4 linked regions of the Homo sapiens genome follow. The protein of the gene in region 1 interacts with the protein of each later gene in a pairwise test. Each region holds a gene or a part of one and is shown on either strand. Other genes may lie near its edges. The genes, in order: PLAGL2, FAM90A1, PAX9 and ZNF564.

What was found.
Region 2: the proteins of PLAGL2 (region 1) and FAM90A1 interact in binary tests that used the Homo sapiens proteins (3 or more experiments, as listed by UniProt).
Region 3: the proteins of PLAGL2 (region 1) and PAX9 interact in binary tests that used the Homo sapiens proteins (3 or more experiments, as listed by UniProt).
Region 4: the proteins of PLAGL2 (region 1) and ZNF564 interact in binary tests that used the Homo sapiens proteins (3 or more experiments, as listed by UniProt).

The regions. Positions count from the first base shown.
Region 1 is NC_000020.11:32,204,743-32,212,356, forward strand, and holds the start of PLAGL2 (zinc finger protein PLAGL2), read right to left. Parts: upstream 3,002-7,614; 5' UTR 2,899-3,001; intron 1,822-2,898; exon of another isoform or gene 1,554-1,821; intron 462-1,553; exon of another isoform or gene 352-461; intron 341-351; exon of another isoform or gene 1-340. Other genes in the region: POFUT1 (GDP-fucose protein O-fucosyltransferase 1 isoform 1 precursor), read left to right, coding at 3,200-3,323, 5,329-5,450. UniProt on the Homo sapiens protein: Shows weak transcriptional activatory activity.
Region 2 is NC_000012.12:8,224,619-8,232,283, reverse strand, and holds the start of FAM90A1 (protein FAM90A1), read left to right. Parts: upstream 1-4,665; 5' UTR 4,666-4,804; intron 4,805-5,805; 5' UTR 5,806-6,012; intron 6,013-6,269; exon of another isoform or gene 6,270-6,291; 5' UTR 6,292-6,448; intron 6,449-7,395; 5' UTR 7,396-7,451; coding exon 7,452-7,574; intron 7,575-7,665.
Region 3 is NC_000014.9:36,657,519-36,664,867, reverse strand, and holds the start of PAX9 (paired box protein Pax-9), read right to left. Parts: upstream 3,009-7,349; 5' UTR 2,779-3,008; coding exon 2,775-2,778; intron 1,972-2,774; coding exon 1,345-1,971; intron 1-1,344. UniProt on the Homo sapiens protein: Transcription factor required for normal development of thymus, parathyroid glands, ultimobranchial bodies, teeth, skeletal elements of skull and larynx as well as distal limbs.
Region 4 is NC_000019.10:12,527,481-12,534,500, reverse strand, and holds part of ZNF564 (zinc finger protein 564), read left to right. Parts: intron 1-5,804; coding exon 5,805-5,931; intron 5,932-6,136; coding exon 6,137-6,197; intron 6,198-6,584; coding exon 6,585-7,020.

The sequences.
Region 1 (7,614 bases):
GAAGGCCTGTTCCTTCAGACTTGTCCTTCCTCAGCAAAACTGTGAAAGAATTCTACTTCTCTTTCAAAGCTGCTCTTCTGGTCTCACATTTTAATCTTAACAACTATAGACTATAGAGAAGCTGACAGAACCTGTTTCCATAAAACAAACACAATCCTTCCCAGTTACTGGCACAACTCAGTATATTTTCAGCCTAAGATTCTTTCTAGTGCCTGATCTGAAAGGGGAAAGAACCTTGGACTTGCTATCAGAAGAGCTGCCACTTACTGGCTGGGAAACCATAGGCAGGTTACTTTATTTCTCTGAACCTCAGTTTCCTCAATTTCTAAAATACGGATTTATTTTCCTTACCTGTAAGATTCGTATAGAGGATTAAATGAAATAATACTCTTGAAAGTGGCTGATACAAAATGTGTGCTCTGAATACATGCAGTGCCTTCTCTGAGGTCTCGGCTGTGTCTGCCTCTTTTTCCGCATGAGGCCTGAATAGTACTTCTTTTTTTCCTCTTTAATGTTACTTCTCAGGCCTCAGAGTGAGTTTCCTTCCTTTCCCAACATCTCCCCCAGAATGCAGTCTTCCCCTTTTCCCTCACAACTAACCCTCGGCACATCCCCTTTAAAGAGCCCCTTACTTTACCTCCCTCCAGGCACCATCTCCTGGGCCAGAGTTCTCTCTTAAGCAGAGAGCCACTTTCCTATACTCTCTTGTATTATTAGGGCTCCATATCCCAAACAGGAATGCTTGCTAAAAACTCTGTATGGTCCTCTTTGAAAGCTGAAACTGAGACATATTTCTCCCCAGTCTGTCCGTCCCCTGTTATGGGCCATGATGCCTGCTGCTCTCTGATGAAACTATAGTTTTTATGGTGTTACATCATCTCTATAGAAACTGCGTTCTTTCTCCATTATTAGCCTGTTTCCTCATCTGTAAAGCTAAAAATACTTACCTCACAGGCTTGCTGTAAGGATTATTTTAGTGAGGTATGCAAAGGGCTCAGCACAGAGCTTGGCCTGCTAGAAGTACCCAACAAAAGAGAGCTATTATCTTTGTCTTTGTATTGAGTTGCATGTTTCCACCTTCTGCTGCCACACTCAAATTCTCCTCACTCCCCCCTAAAAAACAGTTGAGAGATAACACCCCTGCACAAGGAAAGGGTTAATCTTTGAGTGTTCTTAACTAAAGAGACCCACAGAGGATTAACAGCTCCACTTCAGTGACTACCCTAAAATAGCTTTTATCCTCCTGCCCAAGAGTTACTTGGGGATCTGAAGAACTCAATTCAACACCTGCCGGAGGAAATAGACCCAGAACGTTCCTTGGGATAGAATCTTCCCTTAAGCAGAACCCAAAATAGCAACTGGGAAATTATAAATAGACTTAGAGGAAAGAAAAAACAAAACAAAACAAAACAAAAAACAGATCCTGATCTCAGAACCAGAAACAAATCCTAAAACACACTGGTTGGCTGGAAAACAGTGAGAAGAGGGGAAATGGGAATGCTGTCGCCCCCTTCCCCCCCGCCCACTCCAGAGTGGTGGGAGAATTAAATTACAGGGAGGCTGGAGAGTCTCAATGACTTGCACCATTCCAAGAAACATCAAACAGGATTAACAGGGGTTGGATTTACTCTCAGGCTGCTAATTCTTCTGTCAGTGTAGATGGGCCCTCTTTGGAGTCTCTTTGATTCACTATTTCCTCAGATTCCTGCTGCCTCCCACTCCTGGGGAGGCCTTGAACAAATGGCTGCAACTCATCACAACCCCATTTTCATGGGGAGAAAACGTGATTCGACACCCCCGCTCCCAATCTGGTGGCCTCACCTTAGGAGAGAAAGGTTAGAAACCCAAGACCAGACTCTACACACAGTCCCATGGCTGACAGGTGGAAAAACACACAAGCCAGGAGACAGGCTAAGCTTGCAGGTGAAAGCACCGATTCCCCCACACAGGTGTCCCCATATCCTCCACCTAACAGGCCCCTTTCTCCCCACCAAGGTGGGCCACAGCCTGGTCCCAGGCCAACTTTTAGATCACCCCACTGTGGTGTGGGAAAGGTTCAATTCCCCGAGCCTGGGAGAGATGGGAGTGGATGAGGGCTGGAGAAGCAAAGGAAATCCAGGGAGAAGTCTGGAGGGAGTCTCTGGGATGGGAAGGAAGAGCGAGGATGGGAAGGAATCATGAGCAACTTTCCTGGGTCTCTAAGGGATCCCCACAAGAATGAAATGGGGGATTATAAGGGCTGGAAGGCTGGGGGGATGGGGATAGTCAGAAGTGTATCCTCTGAATTTCAAGAGGGTCTCAAAATGGGTAACGGGATGGAAGATGTCGAAAGCCTGGGAGTATGGCCACTGAGGAGGGAACTACAGGTGGGGCTTATTCGACTTCTCCAGACCCAGATATTTGAGGGAAGCCTCAAAGGGAGTTATGTAAGTCTGGAAAATGAAACAGGGTACAGAGCGGGCTATCTGGAGCAGGAAAGGGGGTTATGTGGGTCTGGGTAGGCGTGTCGGAGGGAGGGAGCAGGTGCAGCTTATCTGCGTCCCCCAGACCCGGGTCCCTGGTAAGGTCAGCAGCGCCTTATCTGGGTCTCCAGGGAGCCTAGGGGTCGGGAATGGGGGACCCTCAGGACTGCGTCTCCAGGTCTCGGAAGGGAGGGGACCGGTGGCTTCCTCGGGTCCCCCAGACACAGGTATGGGGTCCAGGGAGAGTTTTCGTCACCCCAGGGCCTATCTGGGGCCGGGTTGGCGCAGACCGGGCCCCGGGTCGGGGGTGTGGGCGACCGCGCTGAGGGGCCCGAGATGAGGCGCGCCGCCGCTCCGGGTACAGGGCGCGCGGACGCAGCGAGACGGCCTCCCGCCCCTCTCCCCGCCGTCCCCTGGGGCCCTCGCCGGCACTCACCGCGCTCGGGGCCCCACGCTGCGGGCCGGGCCGCGCTCGGGCTCCGCCAGGCCCCCTCAGGCCCCGGTAGTGGCGGCGGTCGGGCCATTGTGCGGTGCATTGTGGGAGCCGCGCGAGCGGGCGCTCGGGTCGTGGAGGGGGCGGTGCCGCGGGATCTCTATGGTCCCGCCCGCCCGCGGGCTAGAGCGGCCGGGGCGGTGCGCGGGCGGCGCGCAGGGACCGCTGGGAGCGGGGCGGGCGCTCGCGTCCCTCCTTCCCTCCCCGACTGTGCGCCGCGGCTGGCTCGGGTTCCCGGGCCGACATGGGCGCCGCCGCGTGGGCACGGCCGCTGAGCGTGTCTTTCCTGCTGCTGCTTCTGCCGCTCCCGGGGATGCCTGCGGGCTCCTGGGACCCGGCCGGTTACCTGCTCTACTGCCCCTGCATGGGTAAGGCCTCCCAAGCCCTCTGCTCAGATGGAGAAACTGAGGCCGGGAGAGGAAAAGCCACTCCTCAGATGCGCCCAGAGACACCTTCACAGGTCCAGGAGAGAACCTCAGAGCGGGACGGGGCATGCTCTTCTCCTCTCTGCCTTAGTTGCAAGGGCACAGAGGGGCCAACGTGTCCAACTTTCCATTTGACAGATGAGAAAACTGAGGCTGGGAGAGGTTACGTGACTTGCTTGAGGTCTAAGCCAGTCCAGGGTCCAGTAAATGGAGTTAGTGGGGCAGGACTTGATGTCACTGACCCACGCTGGCTCCTGGTGATTTTTCATTGATTCAGCAAATATTTATGGGGCACCTATTCTGTGCCGGGCCCTGTTCTCTGTACTGGGAATACCGCAGTGAATAAGATAAACTCCGTGTCCTTGTAGAGCCTTCATTTTAGTTGGGGAAGACAAACAATTGAGAATAAGTAGGCCAGGCGCGGTGGCTCACTTCTGTAATCCCACCACTTTGAGAGACCGAGGCAGGATCACTTGAAGCCAGGAGCTCGAGATCAGCCTAGGCAACATAGTGAAAATCCAATCTCAAAAAAAAAAAAAAAAAAAAAAAGCAGAGCGTGGTATCGTGTGCTTGTAGTCCCTTGGGAGTTATCTGGGCGGCTACTTGGGAGGCTGAGGTGGGAGGATCTCTTGAGCCGAGGAATTCGAGGCTGCAGTGAGCTCTGATCGTGCCACCGCACTGCCAGCCTGGGTGACAGAGTGAGACCCTGTCTCGAAACAAGCAAACCCAAAAAGGGGTAAACATAAAACAATAAATACATAGTTTCATAGAGGATGATGAATACTAAGGGAAAATAAAGAGAGCAGGGTAGGGGAGAATCTAAAGACCATGCCAGGTGCACAGTTGAAATGGGTATGGTGGATCATCATTGTGGAAGTGGATGATCTTAAGGCCCCCAGTGGCTTCCAGACTCCTGACCATGACTTTCAGGGCCCTGAATGATGTGGCCTCCACTGGCCATCTCCACAACTCCCTTCTCTGCTGATCCTCCAGCTGCAGCCACACTTAACTCCTTTGCGTTCCTCACACATGCTCAGGTCTTCCAGTCTGCACTGCTGCAGGTGGCGGTCCCTATGCCTGGAATCCTCTCCTCCATTTCTGCCTGACCAGCTGTTTCCCATCCTTTAGATCTCAGCCTAAATGTCACCAGAAAGGATTTCACTGACCTCTACCCAAGTAATCTCCTCATTACCCTATCACCAAACTTTTTTCATCTCTTTCTGGCAATTATCAACATTTTTCATGTATTTGTTTACATGTTTAGTGTCTCTGCAGTGAACTGTGAGTGCCTTAGGGGCAGAGGCCTTGTCCTTCTTGTTCATTCCTGTATCCCAGCACCTAGCACAGAGTCTGGCACATTGTGGCCTCTCAATCATATTTGTGAAATGAATGAACAGGTGCCATGCTGGGATTAAGAAAAGGAATCACACAGGGTCCTTGCTTCTGAGGCATTCACAGGCTGAGGAATCAGCCAGTACGAAGGCCAGGAAGTGAGCAAAGATACTTGAGGAAAATTGAAGAACTGAAGTAGCTCAGAGCCAAGGTGGGAGGTAAAGGAGGGAGAGTGAGTATGGCAGGGGATTGGTGAAAGGAGCCCAGTGAATGAGGCATTCGAGTTGCCCGTCCATGTGCAGGTGAATGGAGATAGAGGTAGAAGCTCTTCTGGCTGAGGGACAGCAAGATCAGAGGCATTGGGTGGGGATGGGAATTGTAGAGCATGTTGGGGAAACAGCAAGAAACCTGGAGTGGCGGAAGCAGTTGTTGCAGGACCTGAAGAGCCTTGGATATCAGACCCAAGAGTCCAGACTTGTTCTTATGCTGCCAGCTCCCCTAGTTCTCCTTGGTATCCCTGACTTTCTACCCCTGGCTCCACAACCTTTCTGAGCCCTGCATGCTCTATGCCCTCCATGCCCCAGGCCTCACCTCACCCGCAATGTACCATTTCCAGGGCGCTTTGGGAACCAGGCCGATCACTTCTTGGGCTCTCTGGCATTTGCAAAGCTGCTAAACCGTACCTTGGCTGTCCCTCCTTGGATTGAGTACCAGCATCACAAGCCTCCTTTCACCAACGTGAGTACTTCCCACTGACCTTGGCCTTTCTCCGCCCTTTCTCAGTCTTGCTTACTTACACTTAACCCTCAAGTCCTCTGGGCTTTACCTCCCACTCCTCTGAGATTTCCCTACCTCCAGCCAGAACTGTCTTCACTGCAATAACAATGCCTAACATTTATTTATCCAGCACCTGTTGTGTGCGGCTGCATGAGAATTAGCTCATTTCACCCTCATCACTTGCCTGTGAGGAAACCGGGGTTTACAGAGGTTAGGTAACTTGCCCAAGATCACACAGCCTGTGAGTAGGAGAGCTGGAATTCAAAGCTATCTTTGTCTGACTCCAGAGCCTGTGACTTGAACCTAAAGCCTCCATTTCCTTCCCTGATTGGTCCTACCCTCTGTGCATTCCATTGGCCAAGGGTGGCAGATGCTATTATCAATTTTAAAGGAGACATGCAGGCACAGGTTATTTAATGACATGTCCAAGGCCACAACCCAGGTAGTCTGGCTTCAGTGCTGCCTCTCACCCCATCAAGGGGCTCCCTTGTCATGCGATGCTCACCGGCCCCCAGTTCCTTGCTTATTCTTTGTGTCTTCCAGTGACCTTGTGTCGTTGTTCATATTGTATCTCCCGGAGCCTGGCAGTAGGAACTTAATTAGTATTTGATGAATTGACTTAATAATTTTCCAATAGACATCAGAAATAATACTTAGTGTGAACAAAACACTTAATTTCATTCTTACAACCTTTTCTCTGCATAGATTTTACTTTTTCCTTTGCATGCCAGTATTTACAGAGGTTTTGAGCAGCAGTCAAAAGCCAGAGTACCAGAGATCATAGTCTGACTTGGGTTCTTACTAGTTGCATGGCCTGGACAGGGTACTTTACCTCTTTGTGCCTCAGTGTCCTCATTTTAAAAATAAGCTGGTAATGATTCTTGTTACCCTCTTGTGGTAAGGACTGAATGTGTCAGTGGCAGTAACACGCCTTCAGTGTTGTCATATGCCGCCTCCCTCTTAGAATCAACTGAGCTTATCAACGTACAGATCCTAGAGTCCTCAGTTAATGGAAACCATTGATGTTCTGATAATTTCGCACTCACTATTTTTTTTTTTTTGAGATGGAGTCTTGCTCTCTTGCCAGGCTGGAGTGCAGTGGCACGATCTCAGCTCACTGCAACTTCTGCCTCCCGGGTTCAAGCGATTCTCCTGCCTCAGCCTCCTGATTAACTGGGACTACAGGCGCACCACCACGCCCAGCTAATTTTTGTATTTTTAGTAGAGACAGGGTTTCACCATGTTGGCCAGGATGGTGTCAATCTCTTGACCTCATGATGTGCCTGCCTTGGCCTCCCAAAGTGCTGGGATTATAGGCATAAGCCACTGCGCCTGGCCTCGCACTCACTATTACAGTGTAGACATTGCCCATCCATCTCCCTCTGGCTTGCTTGCCTCTGTCTCCTTGCCTTCTCAGCCAGTTGTCTTTCCAAGTCCCCACTTCCTTGCTTTCTGTGGCTTACTAACCTGCTCCAACAAGGCTCTTCTTCGCCACTGTTAGCATTCTCACTGAGGTCACCAGTGACCTCCAAATTGGCAGGGGTTATTTCCCAGTCTTTCTCTCACCTGACCTCCCACTGGCACTTGACCCTGCAAGCTTCTCCTTCCTGAACTTCCCTGTTCCAAGACACCACCTGTCCCTGCTACAATCTAACCTCTCAGCATTTTCCTCTTTCCACTGTATCAGGGGCTCCTTTCTCTCCACCCACTGTTTAGATGTTAGTGTTTCTCCTCTTTCTGTTTGCTTACTAGCTATGTGACCTCAGATGTTATCTAGATTCTGTATGCTTGGGTTTCTTCATAAGTAACCTGGAGATGGTTATATTCCTACCTCAGGATTAAATGTGCAAATCTATGTAAAGTGATGAGTGCAGTACCTAGCACTGTGTCAACATGCAATAAATATTAGTTGCTATTATTACCATTACTTGCTTTGCTATAAATATCTGTTGACTCCTGTGGCTTTTACTCTTCTCCGTGTACCTCCCAAATTTATCTGTGGCCCAGACTCAGACTCCTCCATAATTACAGGCCTGTGTTTCTTTTTTCTTTTTTTTTTTGAGACGAGGTCTCACTGTTGCCCAGGGTGAAGTGCAGTGGCATGATCATCGCTCACTGCAGCCTC
Region 2 (7,665 bases), on another chromosome or scaffold:
ATCAGACATGAAAATTCTGGCTCCAAAAATAGCATTTTCTTTGTGCAAATAAAAACGTGTGTATCAAGTATGACGTTCCCCCAACGTGGACACACTTGGTTCCTCAGAAAGCCAAGCCCGCTGCAGCTGCCACATCCCAGGGCTTATGGTGCAGCAGGTGCTTTTTTCAAGACAGGAATCAAAGTGTTAGGAACACGGCAGACAGGTGACACCTGGATACCAAATGCAGGATGAGGAGTACTGCAGAGGTCACAGGGAAGTCACAGAACAGTAATACGCTAGCAGGGGCATGGGGCGTGAAGAACAGAAGAAGACAGGAAGCGTTTCAGAGACTCCAAAGAAGAAATCAGGGCCCACCACAGCTTCCCGGGTCATTCACCAGGTGGCACCACTGCCGTCATTTCAGCTTCTGGCCACTGGGAGGCGCTGCTCGAAAGGGTTTGCCCTGAGACTCCAAGAAGAAGCTGCGGGAAGGACAGCAGGGGCCCTGGGGTTTTAGCCTCTGGCCCAGGAGTTATGTGTCCATAACCAAAGGGAGCATAGTCTGCACCCAGCTCTCATCCCATCAGAGCTGCTGCGACTCCCGCAGGTTCTTCTGGAACTGGTTTAGCTTGCCTGCAGGATCAGGAGAGTTTGAGAAAAGCATCTGCAAAATGCTAAAGAGCAGAGCTTACCTCATTGCCTGTCCCCATCTCATCCCAGGTCACCACCTGGCTGACCCCAGGTCCCCGACCCAACAACAACCCCTCCCAAGTCCCTAACTCCCTCACTTGGACTTGAGACCCTTCACAACCCAGCAGCGCTCCGCCTCCAACGTGACATCATGCTTTCTGGAAACTTCCCCGTATGTCCCACTTTCCCACACTTGGTGCCCTGGAGCACCTTCCGGCCTCTACATGCTGTACGTTCCCCTGTGAGCACCCTCCTCTCGGCCTCTGGCCAACACAGTCCCACCCATCTGTGGGTAACAAACGGGTGTGTGTGTTCTTTTCAGCCTTGCTAAACTGTCTGAATCAAGGATCACAAACTACAGCCTGCAGGCCAAAGCCAGCCCACAGCCTGTGTTTGTAAATAAAGCTTTATTGGAACAAAGCCACACCCCTTAATCTACAGATGATCTGTGGCTACTTTCACACCACAACAGAGTACCATGGTTCTGACAGAGACTGGGGGACCCTGTCTAAATGACTTCTGACCTGGACCTTTACTGAAAATCCTCCCAATCATTCTGTTGACAAGAATGGTGTATTACTTTTTGCAATAAGAAACAAGTAACCTTTGCAGAATTCCACCCATCTTTCAAGGCTGATCCCAGAAGTTCCCTCTGCCCACGCACCTACCTGATCCTGATCACTTCCTAAACTGCAGCCCGGCCCACCCGGCTCCAGCATCATTTGTGGAGTCTCAGCTCCATAAATCCAGAGGGCAGGTGGGGGTGTGTCCTAATTTTCCCGAGCCTACTGTACCGAAACAGGACAGCAGAGTAGGAAGCCTCTGTGACTTCTGCTCCCTCCCTAGCTTTTCCACCAGACCCTGCATGGTCCCACCCTGGCTGTGTGAAGCAGGGATCAGGGAGCGTGGCTCGATGTCAGTCTCCAGAACCCTGTCCACCCTGGCGTGGTGGCAGACATGGCTACCTGCAGCTGAGCTGCCAGTTCCTCTGAGTCCTCAAAGACCAGGCCATTTTCTTTATGTTTCACCAGCTCATGTAAACTGCAGAGAGAACCAAGGGAGCCTGAGAGCTGCCTGGGGAAGACACCAGACCCCTGGGGTGCCCAGCTGGGCTCCCACCCACCCCACGCTCAAGCCAGGCTGGGGGTTGGAACAGGGGGTGTGGTTTCTGGGAGCTGGTTCTTAGATTTGGCATCTGAAGGGTATAAAGGCCTGGGGGGGGTGCACATCAAAATGACCAAATCGATTTGAGGAGAGAGCCTTAAGGAAGGTTTGTACCTTCTGTGCTGGATGCTCTTCAAGGACTGAAGAATTATTTTTGCATGTTTTTCTTAATTCCATGGCCATGGAACAAGTAAAGGCAACCCCCTGGGGACTGGTTCAGCACATAAAAGATGACTTTTCTAGGACACCAGATTTGATCCCGACATTCCCTGAGCTCAGCTCACATGAGGGGCTCGCATCCCTGAATCCCATCCAGGAGCTGGCTCCTGAGCAGGGGCCAAGGGCTCAACTTGTGCTGGGGCTACTGCTTCTAGAATCTCCTCTAACGCCGCCCTTCCAAACACCCGTCTATGCTGGGTGCAGTGAGGCCACAGCATGACACTCATTTAACTCGTTCAAACCCAGCACGTGAGCTTGGCCAAAAGGGACATGGTGGGAGAGAAAAACAAAGAAAACCATGTAAGCCTGCAGGCAATTCCCGCCAATTCTACTCTAGGAGCAAAAGCCCCGAGTGGAGTTCTTGTATTTAAGGTACTTTTTTTTTTCATATTGGGTTGGTGCAAAAGTAATTGCCATTTTTAATGGCAAAAACCGTGATTACTTTTGTACCAACCTAAATATAACATGAGCTCTAAATGGAAGCAACTACTTCAGTGAGGCTCAGCCCAGCCACAGCAACCGCAGGGCTCCTCCTCGTGGCCTCCAGTGTGTGCTGGACTGACCGAGGGGCAGGGCCTCACTGTGGGCAGCTCACTCTGCACTGCTTCCCCCTCAGTGGTGGATCTGTGAAGCTATCCCCAGAAAGATTGGGGTTCTGCTCCTACCACTTGAAGTTCACGGCACACGCAGGCAAACAGCACCTGAACATGTCCACCACCTTCATGGGCAGGTCCAGGCCACTGGAGGATGTGTCCAGAGAGACACCCAGGTCCACTAACCCTGCTAGGCAAGAGGGGTGGGTCAGAGCGCTGGTCTCTGCCCTGGGAACACAAATCCTCCCAGCACAGTGAGACAACTTCCCCCGAGGGGAGTGAAAATTGGATAAGGTCCCCGACAACCCCAAGCACAAGTGGCTTAAGGTGGCCAAGCAGCCACACGGCCTGGGTGGGACATCTGAAAATGTAAGTTGACACTTTTTCTACATAGCCACAATTTGTTTTTTGTTGTTGTTGTTTTGTTTTGTTTTGAGACAGAGTGTCACTCTGTCACCCAGGCTGGAGTGCAGTGGCACAATCTCAGCTCCCTGCAACCTTCACCTCCCAGGTTCACCTCCCGCCTGTAATCCCAGCATTTTGGGAGGCCAAGGCGGGTGGATCACCTGAGGTCAGGAGTTCAAGACCAGCCCGGCCAACATGGTGAAACCCCATCTCTACTAAAAAAAAATACAAAATTAGCGAAGCTAATTCGTGGCAGGTGCCTGTAATCCCAGCTACTCAGGAGGCTGAGGCAGGAGAATCGCTTGAACCCGGGAAGGCAGAGGTTGCAGTGAGCCAAGATCGCGCCATTGCACTCCAGCCTGGGCTACAAGAGCGAAACTCCGTCTCAAAATAATAATAATAATAATAATAATAATAATAATAATAATAATAACAAGAGCGAAACTCCGTCTCAAAATAATAATAATAATAATAATAATAATAATAAACCACATCACACCCACCACAAACCAGCTGTCAGTGTGAAAATAAAGCCAAATAGCTTAACATTTCTAAAGACTAGCTGGGGCTAGGCATGATGGGTCAGGCCTGGAATCTCAGCACTTAGGGAGGCCAAGGCGAGAGGATCACTTGAGGTCAGGAGTTCAAGACCAGCCTGGCCAACATGGTGAAACCCTGTCTCTGCTAAAAATACAAAAATAAGCCAGGTGTTGTGGCGGGCTCCTGTAATCCTGTAATCTACTTGGGAGGCTGAGGTGGGTGAATCGCTTGAACCCAGGAGGCGGAGGTTGCATGAACTGAGATCGTGCACTCCAGCCTAGGCAACGGAGCAAGACTGTCTAAAACAAAGACTAGCTGGAGAATCCTGCCAGGAAAAGGCCCTCAGACTCCAACTGCTCTGCTCACTCGAAGCTGGAAGATGCGGCTCTAGAGACGCATCAGGACCAAGCCACGACTCCCCACTTGGAGAAATCAACGCGGAAAGAGACGGAGGCAAAGGAGAACCATCGCACTGGGAGAGGCGACGCTGTTTGACACATCGTCCCTGTACCTCCCAAAGCCACTGCCCTCCCACACCTGGGCAACAGTGGCCCCAACCCCAGGCCCAGCCCTCCTGCAGGAAGGAAGAGGACTGAATGGAGGGCGTGGCAGACTGAAAGGACGTGGCCTCCTCAAACCCCTTGGTAAAGGGCCTCTGGGGCCACCTGGCAGGGAGGGGCTGGCACACCAGGAAGTAGCCTCCTCCCGGGAGTTCAGCTAGAGCCCAGGTCCTGTCCCCAAGTGGCCTCCAGAGCCACCTTTTCTGAAAAAAGTACATCCTGCCCACCCCTGTTCCCCCTGCTTAAGGCCCCGCGTCCTCCCTGAGCCTCCTGCTGGCCTCTCACCTAGAAGCGGGGGTAGTCCTCGGCCCTCCAGCCAGGGGGTGCAGACCTGGATGTGCTGGAAATGCTTCTGGTGGATGAGGCGGCTGTAATACTCCCTCAGAGGCCCTTTGCCTTCACAGAGAAAAGCAGACACTGCCATGGACCCGTCTCTCTCCGTGCCACGTGGCCCCAGGCCCAAGACACTCCCCCTAGGAGGGATCCTTTTCCCAGAAGCTCCACCCCTCGGCAGCTCCAGTCAGGCCCCATCCGGGCCCTTCCAGAAGCAACCCAGGAGCCCCGAGACCTGCAGGGATGTGTGCACCCTGACCCCTGACGCATAGCCCTGCACCTGCAGCCAGCTGGCCTCGGGCTTGAAAACATGGCGGGGTAAGCACTGGCCTGGCACCCGACCGCCCACTGGGTGGACCCAGCCTTCTGTCTGTGTTGTGCGCAGGGGACACGAGGACTCCCGCTGCCCTGACACAGCCCCCAGATCACATGGCGCAGGTTCCAAGCCGCCCCTGCCCTGCCACAGCCCCCAGAGCACACGGCGCAGGTTCCAAACCACTCCTGGGAGCCTAGAGGCCAAAGGAGGGAGGAGAGCAGGACCAGCAGCTGGCCCAGACCCCGCCTCTTCCCACACCGCTTCTGCTTTTCCCCCTCCTCACTGAGTCATCTTGAAAGGGCTCAGCAGCAGTAACTGAGGGACAGGGGCTCTTCCGTTTGAAAAATTAAAAGAGGCTTGGTTAAGGCAACAATGACATGACCGGGCACAATGGCTCATATCAATAATTCCAGCATATTGGGAGGCCAAGGCAGGTGGATCACCTGAGGTCAGGAGTTCAAGACCAGCCTGGCCAACATGGTGAAACCCTGTTTCTACTAAAAATACCAAAATAAGCTGGGTGTAGTGGGCACCTGTAGTCCCAGCTACTCGGGAGGCTGAGGCATGAGAATTGCTTGACTGTGAGACGCGGAGGTTGCAGTGAGCTGAGATCACACCACTGCACCCCAGCCTGGGCGACAGAGACTGTGTCTCAAAAAAAAAAAAAAAAAAAAAAAAAGACATCAATGAAGAAACAAGAAAAAAAAAAAGATGCTTGGAAACTACTGAAAAATTAGAAAGCTTGGTATGTACAGATTCACATCTGGGCTCCCTGCCCTGCTGTGAAACCCTCTGAGCTTCAGTTTCCCACATGTAAAGCAGTATAAGACCCTATGGCAGAGAGCTGCAGTGGGGATTAAGGAGACAAGATCGTGGGAAGCACAAGGTAAAGGCGGCGTGCCCCTCCCTGGACTCCAATGCCTGGAGTCTCAAGACCAGCTGAAAAGGGAGCCAGGCACTGAAGGACAAAGCGGTGTTGACTTTCTTCATCTGTGTTTCCCAGTGCGCTCCAATTCACGGTGGTTTCCAAGCGCATTCTGGAGGAGAAAACACATGAGTGTGTGGTCAGGGTTCTCTGCTGACAGACCTACCGTGGGGAAGAAAGAGAAGCTCTGAAGATGGATCATGGCCGTGACTGCATGTCAAGGAGAATCTCCATGATGACACGGAGGCCTACGTCGAGATAGAGTAAATATGGTCCAATTAAAAGGTGTCTATTTTACCACATTTTTTAAAACAAAACAAAACACAAAAACAAAAAAGATGGAAAAGAAGACAGGGGTACAGGCACCAGTGTTACATATCTGACGGGGAACATCTATTCTTCAAAGCTTGCAGCTGTACACGTAGGTTTTAGAATGTCTGTCAGCAGTGGACATGATCTTAGAGTGGGCTGTGCAGATAGACCTTTCCGAGTCATGTAATTGGATTAAGTTAATTGTAATTAACCTACATGTAACTGATTAGGTTAGGGTACGTTCCACGTCAGGTGACCAGAGGCAGTATAAAAGGCAGCCTGGAAAGCAGAGGTCCCTCTCTGCCCCTTCCTCCGTCTTCCTGGATGCTGCATCGCTTCCAGCGGGGCTGCTCCAGCACCTGCCCATCTCAGCGCCAGCCGGGGAAAGAAAGTAGACGTGTAATTTCAGGTTAGTTTCACTGAACAGTTGTTTGTTTCACGCAATCCCTGAGGGGTGGGGGGGAAAAGAGACAAAGGAGGCCGAAAGAAAGCGATCACACTGGGGCTTGCTGATGCGGTAGGGTGTGCTCTCGTTACTAGTAATTCTTGGAACAGAAAACGAGAAAGCATTTCCGTCTCCATGTGTGGGATAAGACCAAGGTGGGAATGCGAAAAGAAATGTACTGCAGCATGCTGAATTGGTGGGTAAATGGAAAAAGGACTTTGGAAAAAAGGGTGGTTTGCCCTTCAGCCGTGTAAGACATTGATACGATATGGCACTTGTTCACCGTTCGTTTAGATGAATTCGTGTGGCATGCGTAAAATACCAGAAAAATAAATAAAGAGGGGCTGGAGCTAAAGCCAAAAAGATAGAACAGGAAAGACCATCACCTGCTAGTGTGGTAGAGAGGAAGATAACTTCTCTCTATGAATTTGTGTTTGGAAGTTGCCTAATGAAACGGCAAGAGTAGCGATTCAAGTTGTGACAGGAGGCATCCCTTATCCCAGATTTCAAACAGACCTGCCAAAGGGTGACACACGCCATGCCCTGTGGCTTCGATCATTCTGTCGGTCAAGGGAGATAGAGTCATCGTGTCTTCTACCGGAGTGAATCGTGATAGACCTAAGTCCAGTCTCCAGAATCAGTTGTTAGTTTGGGGTTGAAAGCTCAACTCCCCATACCTAGGCCACGGGCCCTGTGGCAGGCGAGGTTTACTCTTGGACTAGGTAATCATGGCAGAGGAACACACAATATCTGAGGATGCACACAGCACATTGTGTTCCACAGATTTGACCGACTGGTGGTGAGGTCTCCTCATGACCACACCGGCAAGGAATTAGCGGGGGGCTTCCTGTGGGTGTGTGAATATCCAATGTGCTTAACCATCGACTTGTGTGTGTTTGTGTGTGTTTCAGGTGACCCGACAATCAACCCCTGAAAAAGGCGGTCATAAAACCCCCAGGAGACGAAGATGATGGCACGTCGTGACCCCAAACCTGGGGCAAAGAGACTGGTGAGAGCCCAGACCCTCCAGAAGCAGCGGAGGGCCCCAGTTGGGCCAAGGGCTCCCCCGCCCGATGAAGAAGATCCCAGGGTAAGTCTAGCCCTGGATCTCTTGGGTATTGGGGTGGGGGTGGGGGCGGGGGGACGGGGTGTCACACGGTCCTCAGAGACTGGGTTGGATT
Region 3 (7,349 bases), on another chromosome or scaffold:
AACTGGGCTCTTGTAAACTTGCAGTCAGAAAACAAGAAGATGAGAAATCAGAGCCCTGCTTTAATTACTTAAAAAGATAATTGTGCCAATGTGGTGGCAACCAAGAAAGGCAGGAAGTAATTAAAGAAACTATTTCCCCCTTTCCTATTTAATTTTTCCTCTACACTTTTAAAACTTTAGGCTGAGAAATTAAGAAAGTGGACTATCTACACATTATTTAAATTCTGCATCTAGGTCATTCAGACTTTCTTTTCTCCCTACCAAGAAAAAAGTTAACGCCTTAAAAAAAAAAAAAAAAACTCAGTAAAAGAAAACAAACTCAGGTCTCCTGCGGAAGCCGGACTGGGCAGGAGGGCTCGGGGAATCCTTCTGACAAGGCAGAAAGGACGCTTAGGACTAGGCAAGGTCAGGGGTGAGAAAGGAAAGAAACAGTGGGGTGGCACTGCTTAAAACATGCAGGAACTAGATAGATATCCACTTGCATTCTCGGGGACCCGGGGACCCGGGGACCCCAAAGGAAAGTGGCAGGCTCAGGGAAAACTGAAAAGAACAGTAAAAGGACAGCATGGAATTGCCTGCATTTTATCTCCATCACTGCAGTGGCTGATGCCACTTCCCTTCCTAAGATATATACAGTGAAGTCTGTTAAGTTAGAAAGTGAATGGAGAGAGAAAGAGAGAGAGAGAGAATGTGAATATGACTTCGTCTGGGAATGAGTTACATGCAAGTTACTAGTAGTAACTTCGGGACCTCCATTTCCGAGGAAAATGAAGTGAAGCATAAGAACGAAACCAATTAGGTGACATTTGAACTTCCTGCCTGAGCAAATTTGGCCTGATTACCAGAATCGGAGAATACTTCAATTTCCAAGGCGTGCTGGACTCCTCCCGGCCAGACTTCTCCCGGCCGTAGTGATCCCCAAGCAAGCTGCTCTGCCCACAGCGGAGTCTGCAGCCGGCAGCCCCAAGCAGGCTCGGGCCTCCCGGGCTGCGCCCCAAGTCCAGCCCCGGCCGCACTCTCCAAGTGAGCAAGCCGGGCTGAGGCTGCCTCGGCGCGAGAGGCGGGGGAGGGTGGAAAATGCGAACCATGTGTTGGGGATGGGGGGATGTTATGGGTCTGGTAGTTTGAGATGAGGCAGAAGACTGTGTGTGGCAAGGAAACCAGGGGCATGAGTTTCAAGTTAATGAGATCAGAACACCCCCTAGGAAGACTCCTTACGTTTCCAAAGGAAAAAGCCTCAGGTGGTGGGAAAGACAGTGTCCCTGAGGCTGCAGATACTGGGACCTCCGCGAGAGTGCGGGGGCAGACGCTGCACATCCACACGCCCAGCCTCTGAGCCCCTACCTTGGTCGGTGATGGAGCGGATGCCCAGGATGTCGGTGACGGAGTGCGAGGAGGGCCAGGTGCGCGGCATGGCCACCGAACCGGGGATGGCAGGCACCCCGGGTGGCGTGGGCACCTTGGCGGCCGCCGCCGTGATAGGGCTGGGGTACGAGTAGATGTGGTTGTAGGGCAGCGCTGGCTGCGGCGTCGGCTGGTGCTGCTTGTATGAGTCGTAATGACCCTGCTGGGCCAAGTTGCCGATCTTGTTGCGCAGAATGCGGCTGATGGAGCTCACGGAGGGCACATTGTACTTGTCGCACACGCCGTCCGCCAGCAGGCGGTCCCGGATCTCCCAGGCGAAGATGCCGGGGTCTCTCTGCTTGTAGGTCCGGATGTGTTTCACCACGGTGGGGGTAGTGACCCGGGGCTTGCTGCCCCCGATGGCTCCTGGCAAGATCGAGCCCGTCTCGTTGTATCGCGCCAGGATCTTGCTGACGCAGCCGTGCGAGACCCGTAGCTGGCGGCTGATGTCACACGGTCGGATGCCCAGTTGGGCCAGTTCCACGATGCGAAGCCGGATGGCGTTGGGCAGCGGCCTCCCGTTCACGAACACTCCTCCCAGCTGGTTCACCTCCCCGAAGGCTGGCTCTGCAAAATGAACACACAGCGCGCAGGGACGCGCACCCGCTGCTTGGGACAGCTGCCTGCCACTGGGCCTCCCTACGCATCCGGGGACTGGGCGAACGCACCCGTCCCCTACTAACTACTGGGGCTGTCCCCAAACCATATGGTCCCTGAACATAGCCGAACGGCCCCAAACCGTCACTGTCCAATCGGACCCCCTCCCTCATTCCTGCCGTGCCGGAGGCCCCTACGGCCAAGTAAAGTGGTGAGATGCCGGGCCTCTCCGAGCGTTCAAAAGTCTCCCGAAGCAGGGGGAGAAATCGGTCTTGACGCCTGAACGTGCTCCTTCTCGCCTGCTCCTCACTAAAGTCCTTGAGCCGCTCCCTCTCTCCACCCATCCCATCCCCAGCGTTCCTTCTGGAGACCCGGCCAGTTAAACAAAGTCTAGGGGAAGCTAGAGGGTGTTTTATTTGTTGTTGTTTGTTTTCTTTTCTTTTCTTTTCCTGTTTTGTTTGCATGTGTGCGCGCGTGTGAAACAAAACTTGGTTTGCTACTCGGGCTGAGGGGCTCGCTGATGCCACAGCTCCCTTCTCTTAAAATCAGAAAATGGCATCAACAGCCACCCAGTAGCCAGCGTTCACATTGAACTGCTGTGCGCCGCTGACCCTTAGCGTGTTCCTACAACTTGTAGGAACACGAGCAAAGTCAATAGAGAATGTGAGCGCCTAGTGGCGCGCGCCCTCGCGCTCCCTCCCTCCCTCCCTCCCTTGCCCGCTCGCTCCCTCCCTCCCTTCCCGGCTCTGACAGAGTCCCCCGCCGCCACTCACCCATTGCTCCGAGCAGTACACCAACCCGGCCCCAGTTCCGCACTCCCAGACAGAAACTTTCCGCACCGCCTCAGTGGCCCGGCCTGTTGCTATCCCGGCCGACCGCCGGCGCCTCCGCTTCTTCCCAGGAGGAGGAGGCGAGAGGGCAAAAGGAAGAAGTAAAAGGAAGTCTGTGCCCCGATGAAAGAGGCTTGAGTTCTGCATTTCAATCTAAGCAGCAACGTGGGCTGGGCTGAGCAGGGCAGGGCGGCTCCGTCTATCACTCACTGGGGACACGCCCTAAAAGGGGCGGGTCCGAGGGCAAGCTGCATGGTGATTGGTGCGGGTCGGTGAGCGACAGCGCAGTCCAGGAAACTCCTTCCGCTGTCTCTTTCAGGCTAGCTCCCCACCTGGGTGACTAAATACAATGAAAATGGGTGTTTGACATCTTCCCAGAAGCGGCACAAAAAGACAGCAAAATCAGGCTGGTAAAATGCTGAATAAACAAATGAAAGCGTTTGGTCTGAATGTGAATGACTCGAAGGGAGAAGGGGCCCGAGGAGACCTCCTCCGGGGAACGATGGACATCTCAGAATTGAAGTTAAGGCTATAGGTGGGAGGCGGGCGCCACCGTGCACAGGGGTGAGGGAGTTGTCTTAGCAAAATCTGTCATGCGGGCCTCTGGGGACTGTCAGGAGAGGATCTGTGTCACCTGCCGATTCTACCTCACTTCAGTCCATGCCAGGTGGCGAGAGCGCAGGTGTGAGAAGATAGGCCGGCCAAAGAAACCAGGAGGTTGCGGGGAGCCCGAGCCACAGGTGGGGGCCACTGTTAAGGCCAGGGAGGTTCCTCCTACCGCCAGCTTCCTGCGGCGACCCCCCAGTCCAGGTGGACCGGCCAACCACTAGCCACACAGGCTCGAGGCACGGGCCACGCCGTGTGCGGGGAACTGAACCACAGGCGGCTAACGCTAGCGCACAGCCCCAAGTCGACCAATTGCCAGTGCGTGGGGCACTCACTACGGAGCCCAAGGCTCTGCCACATTCAGCCACTGTCCTGGGCCCCTGGCCCTCGGTGGCAGCGTTTGTGAGGGTTCTCCAAACCAGCGAGCCCTCTCGAAAGAGTTTTGTTTAAATATGAAAGAGACTTAGTCCCAAGACAGTGGACACCGACGCTGCACATGGATGTAATTCCCTCGTCTTCCATTAAGCTCCAGAGGCCCTGTCGTTCTGCCTACTTCTGAATTTTCACTTTTATTCACTGTAAGTCTAATCTAAAGTGTACCGTATGCTTTTTTGCAGCCAAAGTTATTAATATTTGCAGTTAGGGTTGTGGAGAATGTGAATCAAAATAATAAACAAGAAGAGAAATATTTTCGTGAATTTGGGAGTTTGTACTGCTTGGGGTCGTGAACTCTGTTACTGCTACTTGACAATCCAGAAGGCTCCTTGTGCACACAGGATTCAGGCTGCTTCCCCAACAGTCCCCAGGGATGTGTGTGGCTGCGGTCTACACCCAGAGAAGCTGACTGGTCCCAGATCTCAGGTCAGTAAGTTGCAAGAACCCAGGAAAAAACTATGATCAGCCATGCTTCTGCAAAGGAACAGATCTCCAGATTCCCACTTCTATGGTTAGGATGCACTCTAAATTCAAAATTACCTAACAGAATGGAGGATGTGAAAGGTAAAGATGAACTAAAACACCACTCTTTAGAATCGGAATCTTGGGGGAAATCCCACAACTAGACATACTTGAACTTGTCCCTTTTTGTTGGTTGGTTTCAAATGTTTAAAATCTTCTTGAAGTTTGACTTGATAGCAATTTCAGCCTGGTCTGACCTCCAATACCTGTTGGGTGACATCGTGTGGCACCGCCTGGCATTTTTACACAAGGAGAGCCTTCGGAAATCTAAAGATTTTAGAAGCAGCAGCTCCTTCTTAAGGCTGGTAGATAAATTAGTTGAGACTTTGCCGCATCGTAGGGGAGCTTATGACTCTGCCTTAGGCTTGCGGGAGGGAATGAACATGCCCGGCAACTTGACCAGGAAGGAATCCTCCTCCCCCCTCACAGACAGGCAGTGAGTATCGACCTCTGCGCCAAATCTGCTCTACTTCCGTGCACCCAGGGAAAATTTGCAGTCTGCAGGGCTGCTAGGCGGGTACAAGGATGTTCGCATACGAACAGGCAAGACCTCATGTCCCGCGGGGGGTCTGGGGACTCTGCGAGAGCTTTAGCAGTTCTGCAGCACCAGCCTAGACTGGTTCAGAAACTGATATGGTTTAGAGCTCTGGTTATATGGAGGTAACATACAACTCCCTCTTGTTCCTACCAACTCCTTCAGCTGCCACACATCTTCCCAGTTCTCACATAGGTTCAATGCCATCTCTCCCTTTCCACCTGCTGAACTTGGCTGTGACCATGTGGCCTCAGCTGCTGCGGATCCCCTGGGCGTGCCAGGGGTAGCAACTCAGTGGGCAGGGGGCCTGTCCGCAGCTCTGGCGGCTCCCCGCAGGCCCCACTCATGCCGGCGGTTGCAGGTACTGGGTGCTCTTGGCATTCTCAAGAGCGCAGGAAGAGTCAATTTTAGGTGTTTTGGGCCACTAAGTATCCGCGGCAAGCCGAAGACCCCGCTCTGGGAGCAAGAGAAGCCGAAGCTGCAGACAGGGTCAGCGGGATCCCAGCAGAAGAGGGTGATGCTGAAGCCTTCCCGGGGCGCGGACCGAGTGCTAGGGCGAGGTAGTCAGCGACCCGCTGAGACCGACCGAGAGACGACGGATCTGAGGCAGAGAAAGAGGATGAAGGAAGGAAAAGAGAGAACACTAAGGTCTGGTCAGTCCCGATGAATGTAAGGATGCAGGACCTAGAACAAGAACAAGGGTCAGCTGGAGTCTGCCGCCTGGTTACACTGCTCACTCTGGACTCAGAAGATCTCAAAGAGATCGGAAGAATTTCGACTAAAAGGAGAAATTTAAGACCAAAACCAAAACACCAGTAAGGCCTGCAGCTGGCTCAGGCCAGGGAGAAGCCAAAAAGCCTTTCCCTAGCCGCGTCGAGGCCTCCTCCGAGGGGCGACTCGCTCTCTGGATAAATATTTACTCAGTGGGAGACTGGAAGCCGGGCCGAGAGTGTGAAGGAGGGGGCTACACTGGGTGGGAGGAACCAGTACACTCGGCGCTGGCCGGATCCTTGTGTACACCCGCCCAAGGGGAGCAGGGGCCGGGGACTCTGGGGGCGACTCGGCCCAGGCGTGTGGCTGGGGAAGCTTTAGACCCCAGCATCGGATCGACCGGACTCCGCCCTGCCCTCGCGGACCCCAGCCAGATGCTGTGAAGTCTCCATAAATCTGTCAGCCGTCCCAGTGCCGCGGGCAGTCACCTGCGGCGCCCCCTTCCCGGCGCTAGAGCGGCCCGCGGAGAGACGCGGAGAAGCAACGGGAATCTAGCCCGGCAGACTGTACCCGAGGGCTGCCGAAGTCAGACCCAAGCACTACAGGTTGTGCGGAACGCGAGGACCCCTCCCTGTATCCCCAACCTGGACCGACCCCCGGAAGCCTGCTCCTCCGGGTCTACAGGTCAGTGATGACTGTGGATGGGAGGATAGGGCGAGAGTTGGGGGTGCGTATGCACGGGAGAGAGGTTGTTCTATTCCGAGTTGCAGTTATGACAAGCAGAGCTAGCAGAAAATATTAAGGAGCTGATTCCTCCAACTTGCCCCCTGCTGGGGACAGGACCCCCCCCCCCCAAGCGAGGCCCAGGCGACGGTGCCCGCCTCTTGTCCACTCGGAGGAGTTGCAGGGATTGTAAGACAGCCAGAGTCCGAGGTCCGGGACTGGGATTTTCATAGTGCATTGACTTCTAGCCGTCTGGGGGCAAATGCAGTAAAGGCAAGACCCTTCAGGGTCAGTTGGGGCATTGCGCGCGGTGCAGAGAGAAAAACAAGCCCAGCTTCTCCAGAACTCGGCCCTCTGCTATGTCCCCGTCTTGCAGGGTAAGCGGCCAGCTGAGTTTCCCTGAAACTGCAGCGGCAAGTGACAGCCAGAAGCTCGCCCCGCGCCCAGGGCGAGGGAGGGTCCGCCCTGGACCGCTGGCCCCTGCAGGATCTGCGCTGCGGGAGGGGATGGCGGCTAAAAGGAGCAGTCGCGGGGATTGGGGATGGAGACAGCCCTCAGGGGTCCTCTGGTGGGAGAGGAGGACAGGAGGCGCCCGCACACTGACCTGCGGCCTGGACTTGGAGGGACTGCGGACGCGCTAGCCCAAGGAGAAGCCGCAAGCGCACGGAGAGGAGCAGAGCTCGGCCGGAAGATGCTCGGAGAATAGCCCGGCAGCCTCTCCACCTTCTCATCAAGGAGCCTCACGGTTCAAGAGTCTCTCCGCGGCTCCACTAGGTAGCTAGAATGGCAGCGGGTTGGGTCGGGCCCGAGCTCGGAAATGCGTCCCGGCGTTCTGCGGTCCGACAGCGACACGACCGGAGCCCTGCGGGAGGTGGGATCAGCCCCACGGGCTGCGAGCGCTCGTCGCCCGCTTTCTCCTTGCGAGAGCAGGGGAGGGGCCTGTTGCTGTCTGAAACCCGCTTTTAATTCTCCGCCTGCCTGTTTCC
Region 4 (7,020 bases), on another chromosome or scaffold:
TCTTCCAAAATAGGTGCACTGTTTTCCATTCCCACAAGTAACAAATGAGGGTTCCTATTGCTTCACATCTTTGCCATCATTTGGTGTTCTCAGTGTTTTAAATTTTAGCCATTCTAATAAAGGTTGTGTTAGTCTTTAATTTTTAAATTTGTAATTCCCCAGTGACAAAATATGCATGTTTTCATATGTTTATATGCCATCTATATATTTTATATAATCATGTCTTATGCAGCAAAGACAATTTTATTTCTTCCTTCTAAATCGATATACTTTTTATTTCCTCTGTCTTGTTGCTTATCTAGGACTTTAAGGATGTTGTTGAATAGTAGTGGTGAGAGAAGACATTCTTACCCTGTTTCTGGTCTTGTGTAGAAAGCATCTAGTTTCTCACTGTTAAGTATGATGTTAGCTGCAGGTTCCTCATTGATGTTCTTTCTGAGGAGGAAGTTCTCTATTCCCAGTTTGCCACCGTGAGTGGATGGTAGATTTTGTCAAATGTTCTTTAGTTTTTACTTTTGCCTCCTTTCATTTCTGATCTTAGTAATTTCTTTTTTCTTACCATGACTAGAGGTTTATCAGTTTTATTGGTGTTCTCCAATAACCGACTTCTGTTTTTTTTTTTTAATCTCTATTGATTTCCTGCCATTTCATTGACTTCTCCAATTATTCTGTCTGTCTGTCTGCTTACTTGGGTTTAATTTGCTCTCTTGTTTTTCTGTTTTCCTGAAGTAGACTCTTTTCTTTTTTCTGTTTTTTTTTTTTTTTTTTTTTTTGGAGACAGCAGCCTGCTGTGTCGCCCAGGCTGGAGTGCAGTGGCATGATCTTGGCTCACTGTAACCTCCATCTCCCAGGTTCAAGTGATTCTTGTATCTCAGCCTACTGAGTAGCTGGGATTACAGGCATGCGCCACCACACCCAGCTAATTTTTGTATTTTTAGTAGAGACGAGGTTTTACCATGTTGTCCAGGCTGGTCTCCAATTCCTGGCCTCAAGTAATCTGCCCGCCTTGGCCTCCCAAATTGCTGGGATTATAGGCGTGAGCCACTGCACCCAGCCCGAAGTAGACTCTTAGATGATTCATTATAAACCCTTGTTCTTTCCTGGTGTAGGTGTTCAATGCTGTAAATATTCCTCTATGCACTGCTTTTGCTGCATACCCTAATTTTTGATAAATTTTGTTTTCATTTTCATTTTAGGTCAAAAATTATTTTTGATTTCTCAGACTTCTTTGATCCATGTGCTTATTTAGAATTGTGTTGTTTAATCTCTAAAGATTTGGGGGAGTTGGTAACTATCTCTGTTATTGATTTCTAGATGAATGACTTGTGGTCTGAGCATACTTTGTATGATTTTTTAAAATTTTTCATATTAAGGTGTGTTTTATGCCCCAGTATTTGGTTTATTTTTGTGAATATTCCTGTGAACTTGAGAAGAATTTGTGTTTTGCTATTGTTAGATGAAGTATTCCATGCATTTCAATTAAATCCAGTTGTTTGATGATGCTATTTACTTTACTATGTCCTTTCAGATTTTCTGCCTGTTGGATCTCTTAATTACTGCTGGAGGGGTGCTGCAGTCTCCAACTATACAAGTAGATTAGTGTATTTTTTCTTTGCAGTTCTATCAGTTGTATTTTGCCACATGTATTTTGCAACGCTTGTTATGCAAACACACACTAAGGGTTGTCAGGTTTTCTTGGCATGTTGAGTCCTTTATCATTATGTGATGCTCACTTATATCTCTTTATTTATTTTAAAAATTTAATTTATTTTTTTTAGAGACAGAGTCTCACTGTGTCTCCCAGGCTGGAATGCAGTGGTGTGATCATATAGCTCTTTGCAGCCTTGAACTCCCAGGCTGCAGCAATCTACCTGCCTCAGCTTCTCAAGTAGCTGACTGCAAGTTTGTGATACCCCAACTGGTTAATTAAAAAAAAAATTTTTTTTTTTTTTTTTTTTTTTTTTTTGAGACGGAGTCTCGCTCTGTCGCCCAGGCTGGAGTGCAGTGGCGCGATCTCGGCTCACTGCAAGCTCCGCCTTCCGGGTTCACGCCATTCTCCTGCCTCAGCCTCCCGAGTAGCTGGGACTACAGGCGCCTGCTACCACGCCCGGCTAATTTTTTGTATTTTTAGTAGAGACGGGGTTTCACCGTGTTAGCCAGGATGGTCTCAATCTCCTGACCTCGTGATCCGCCCGCCTTGGCCTCCCAAAGTGCTGGGATTACAGGTGTGAGCCACCGCGCCCGGCCAAAAAAATTTTTTTTTTTAAATTTTTTTTATAGAGATGAAGGTCTCGCTGTTCCCCAGGCTGGAGTGCAGGGTCTATTCACAATAAATTATAGCGCATTATATCCTTGAACTCCTGGTCTCAGGTGATCCTCCATCTCAGCCTCCTAAGTAGCTGGGACCATAGGCATGTGCCACTGCACCTGGCTTATCTCTGTGTTTTTTCCTTTCTCTGAAGTGTACTTTGTGATATTAAGATAGCCATGCCATGTTTCTTTTAATTAATGTTAGCATTTTATATATTTCCCTATCCCTTTACTTTTAATATGTGTGTCTTTGTATTTAAAGTGGTTTCCTTTTAGCCAACATACTATGTTTTTAAAATCCACTATAACAGCATCTGTCTTCTAATTATATTTGGACTATTGACATTCAAAGTGATTATTGATACAGTTGTATTAATATCTACCATATTTTTTACTTTTTTCTATTAGTTGCCCTTGCTTTTGTTTCTTTTTTTGTCTCTGACCTTCCTTCTTGGGCTTTAATTGAGCATTTTACCTGAGGTGTGACATATTTTGTAATCATATGATTTGTTAGTGAGCCTTTGTTCCTGGCCTGGGTTGTGGCCTTCTGTGGTATTGTAAGAAAGATATGTGGTCTTTTTTCCTCAGTGCCTACCATGGTTCTCCTATTTTTTTTTTTATTTTTTTTGGAGACAGAGTCTTGCCACCCAGGCTGGAGTGCAGTGGCACAATCTCGGCTCACTGCACTTTCCACCTCCCAGGTTCAAGTGATTCTCCTGCCTCGGCCTCCCAGGTAGCTGGGGTAACAGGTGCGCGTCAACATGCTTGGCTAATTTTTGTATTTTTAGTAGAGACGAGGTTTCGCCGTGTTTCCCAGGTCAGACTCAAACTCCTAACTCAAATGATCCTGACTCAAGTGAACTCAAGTGATCTGCCTGCCTCAGGCTCCCAAAGTGCTGGGATTACAGACATGAGCCACCATACCTGGCCAGCATTCAGAATTCTTGTTAAAGGTTAGGGAAGCTATCATGTTGTTCTTCAGAAGACTTTGACCATTGTTAGATATTCATTATTCCTGCTACATTTGGAGAAGAACTTTTTGTTGACTCTTCAACAGTTTTTAGGGGATTTATAGAATTTAAAAAATATTTTGTAAGAGGCTATCTTGAGGACATTTCATTCTTTCTCAGAACCCATCTTTCCAGCCAGGTGTGGTGGTTTACACCTGTAATCCCAGCACTTTGGGAGGCTGAGGCAGGAATTTGAGATCAGCTTGAGCAACAAAGTAAGACCCCATCTCTACAAAAAATTTAAAAATTAGCTAGACATGGTGTCTTGCGACTATAGTTCTAGCTACTTGAGAGACTCAGGAGGGAGGATCACATGAGCCCAGGAGATCAAGGCTTCAGTGAGCTGTGATCATGCCACTGCACTCCAGTGTGGATGACGGAGCAAGTTCCCATTTCTAAGAAAACCAAAAGAACCCATCTTTCCCCTTATTTTATTTTGCCTTGACATTACACAATGTAGTATCACATAGTGACTGGTCAGGAATCATTTCCTCTTGAAATTTGAGAAAGAGGATTTTATGTTCTTTTGGAGAAAAGCACTGCTGATCCCTTCGTGTATTTTATAATCATGGTCAAATTCACCATCAAACCATCTGGACTTGAATGAAATCCCTCAGAAATTGCAACTCTTAACCTGTTCCTCAAGGTTAGCAAGTCATAGGGTACCTTGTTATGTATCTGCCAGAAAAAACTCTTCTGGCATTTTGTCTTCTTAGTATGTTTGTGTATGTAAGGTAAAAATAGGTGGGAAACTGCCCTTGACGTTCATGACTGGGGATTTTGCTGGGTGAGGGGGCGCTGCCTAAGTTGCCATACCTTCTTCTTCATGCCTGAGTTCTGTCTTCCCAGTAGCTTCCTAGCCTAGTGAAATGGGACAGAGTCAAAGGAATCAGTGAGTCTATAACAAATGTTATACATGCAGGTTAAAATGACTTCTTTTGCAGAGGAATATTTTCTTTCAACCAACTTGATCTGTCTACGTCTGATGGCCTGGAATCCTTCAGGAAAGTGTGGTCAGCTGGATTTTGTCAGAACGTGGATTTCTACGGGCCTTCTGGCCTCTCATGTTTGATGAAGGGAACAGAAGAAAATGGTTTCACTTCTTCAGTGTATATTTATTTATTCATGGATACCTTTTTCAGTTTTTATCCTGTGTTTCTTTTTTTCTTTCTTTCTTTCTTTTTTTTTTTTTTTTTGAGACAGAGTTTTGCTCTTGTCACCCAGGCTGGAGTGCAGTGGCACAATCTCTACTCACTGCAACGTCCGCCTCCTGGTCTCAAGCGATTCTCCTTCCTCAGCCTCCCAAGTAGCTGGTATTACAGGTGCCCACCACCACGCCCAGTGAATTTTTTGTATTTTTAGTAGAGACAGGGTTTTGCCATGTTGGGCTGGCTGGTCTCAAACTCCTGATCTCAGGTGATCCGCCTGCCTCTGCCTCCCAAAGTGTTGGGATTACAGGCATGAGCCAGTGCGCCTGGCCTACCCTGTGTTTCATGGAATGCTGATTGGTGTGAGATATGAAAGGAAATGGAAGTTTTTCCTGGTAGGAATGATGATCTTAAATTTTTTTTTTTTGAGACTTAGTCTCTCTCTGTCCTCCAGGCTGGAGTGCAATGGCATGATCTCAGCTCACTGCAACCTCCGCTTCCTGGGTTCAAGCTATTCTCCTGCTTCAGCCCCCCGAGTAGCTGGGATTACAGGTGCATGCCACCATGCCCGGCTAATTTTTTTGTATTTTTGGTAGAGACGGGGTTTCACTGTGTTGGTCAGGCTGGTCTCAAACTCCTGACCTTGTGATCCTCTTGCCTCAGCCTCCCAAAGTGCTGGGATTACAGGTGTGAGCCACCAGGCCTGGCCAAAATTTGTTTTCTTTGTATAGCATTTTATTTGTTTCTCCAAGGTGAACTGGATCCTGCCATTAGAGACCAATAAAACTTGTAGTGACTACAGTAAAAATGTAGAGATCAGTTGCATGTTTTCATGGGGTAATTAAATTTATGAGAAAGTGAATGTAGACGGAATTCTGACAACCATATTTATTTATCATAAAATAAATGTTTGGAGACTGCCACATCGTTTTGTCGACTTTTTTGTTTTGTTTTTTGTTTGTTTGTTTGAGATGGGGTCTCTCTCTGTCAGCCAGGCTGAAGTGCAGTGGCGTGATCTTGGTTCACCGTAACCTCTGCCTCCCTTGTTTAAGCGATTCCCCTGCCTCAGCCTCCTGAGTAGCCGGGATTAACAGGCATACGCCACCACGCCCAGCTAATTCATATATCTGTAGTAGAGATGGGGTTTCACCATGTTGACCGGGCTGGCCTCAAGTTCCTGACCTCAGGTGATCTGTATGCCTTGGCCTCCCAAAGTGCTGGGATTACAGGCATGAGCCACCACACCTAGCCATTTGTGAACTTTTATGAATTGGGTTTACATCCCTGTACTGTCATCTCATTCTTCCTCCTGCATTGCATATTTGGGATGTTTTAGGACTCAGTGGCCTCTGAGGATGTGGCTGTGAACTTCACACTTGAGGAGTGGGCTTTGCTGGATCCTTCCCAGAAGAAACTCTACAGAGATGTGATGCGGGAAACCTTTAGAAACCTGGCCTGTGTAGGTAAGGATGACATCATTCCTTCTTTTAGTCAGTTAGAGAAGAAGTATTTCTTGCTTTTTAATGCTTTTTCATGATGTCTAATGTGGAAAAGGGAATACTTGGGTGAATAAATCAGGGTTGTTTGCACCTTATCATGAACTTAGAATCTAGTCATTTTTCTGTAATGTCTATCAGTTCATAAGGATTTTTTCTGACTATATTTTAGGAAAAAAATGGGAAGACCAGAGCATTGAAGATTGGTACAAAAATCAGGGGAGAATTTTAAGGTAATTTGCACTGACAAGATAAAGCAATGTCTCCTTCTTAGTATGTCATGAAATTTTAAAAATAAGTAAACAAACCAGTAAGCCCAGCTTCAGATTTATTTATTCCTACAACTTTTTCACCAGAAAAAGAAAAAGTGGCATAGATGTTCAGTGTTGCAAAATCATTCACTTGGAAATAGTATTAAGAAACTGTATATATGGATATCACTTTTTTGGTGATAGCTACTGTCAAGCTCTCTTGCAGAGCATTCCATCCATTCACTTTCAAACAATTCATACAGGCCTGAAAACTTACCCTTTCCGCGATTATGGTAAAAATGTAAGTCGAATACCTATTAATAAATATAAAGTCACAAACCACTAAATCTTGCTTTCTATTTTTTCCAGAAATCATATGGAAGAGGGACTCAGTGAAAGTAAAGAATATGATCAATGTGGAGAAGCCTTCAGTCAGATTCTCAATCTTAATCTGAACAAGAAAATTCCTACTATAGTAAGACCATGTGAATGTAGTTTGTGTGGGAAAGTCTTCATGCATCATTCATCCCTTAGTAGGCACATCAGATCTCACCTTGGACACAAACCATATGACTATCAGGAATATGGAGAGAAACCATATAAATGTAAGCAGTGTGGGAAAGCCTTCAGTTCTTGTCAATCCTTTCGAAGACATGAAAGAACTCACACTGGTGAGAAACCCTATGCATGTCCGGAATGTGGGAAAGCCTTCATTTCTCTCCCAAGTGTTCGAAGACACATGATTAAGCACACTGGAGATGGACCATATAAATGTCAGGAATGTGGGAAAGCCTTTGATCGCCCA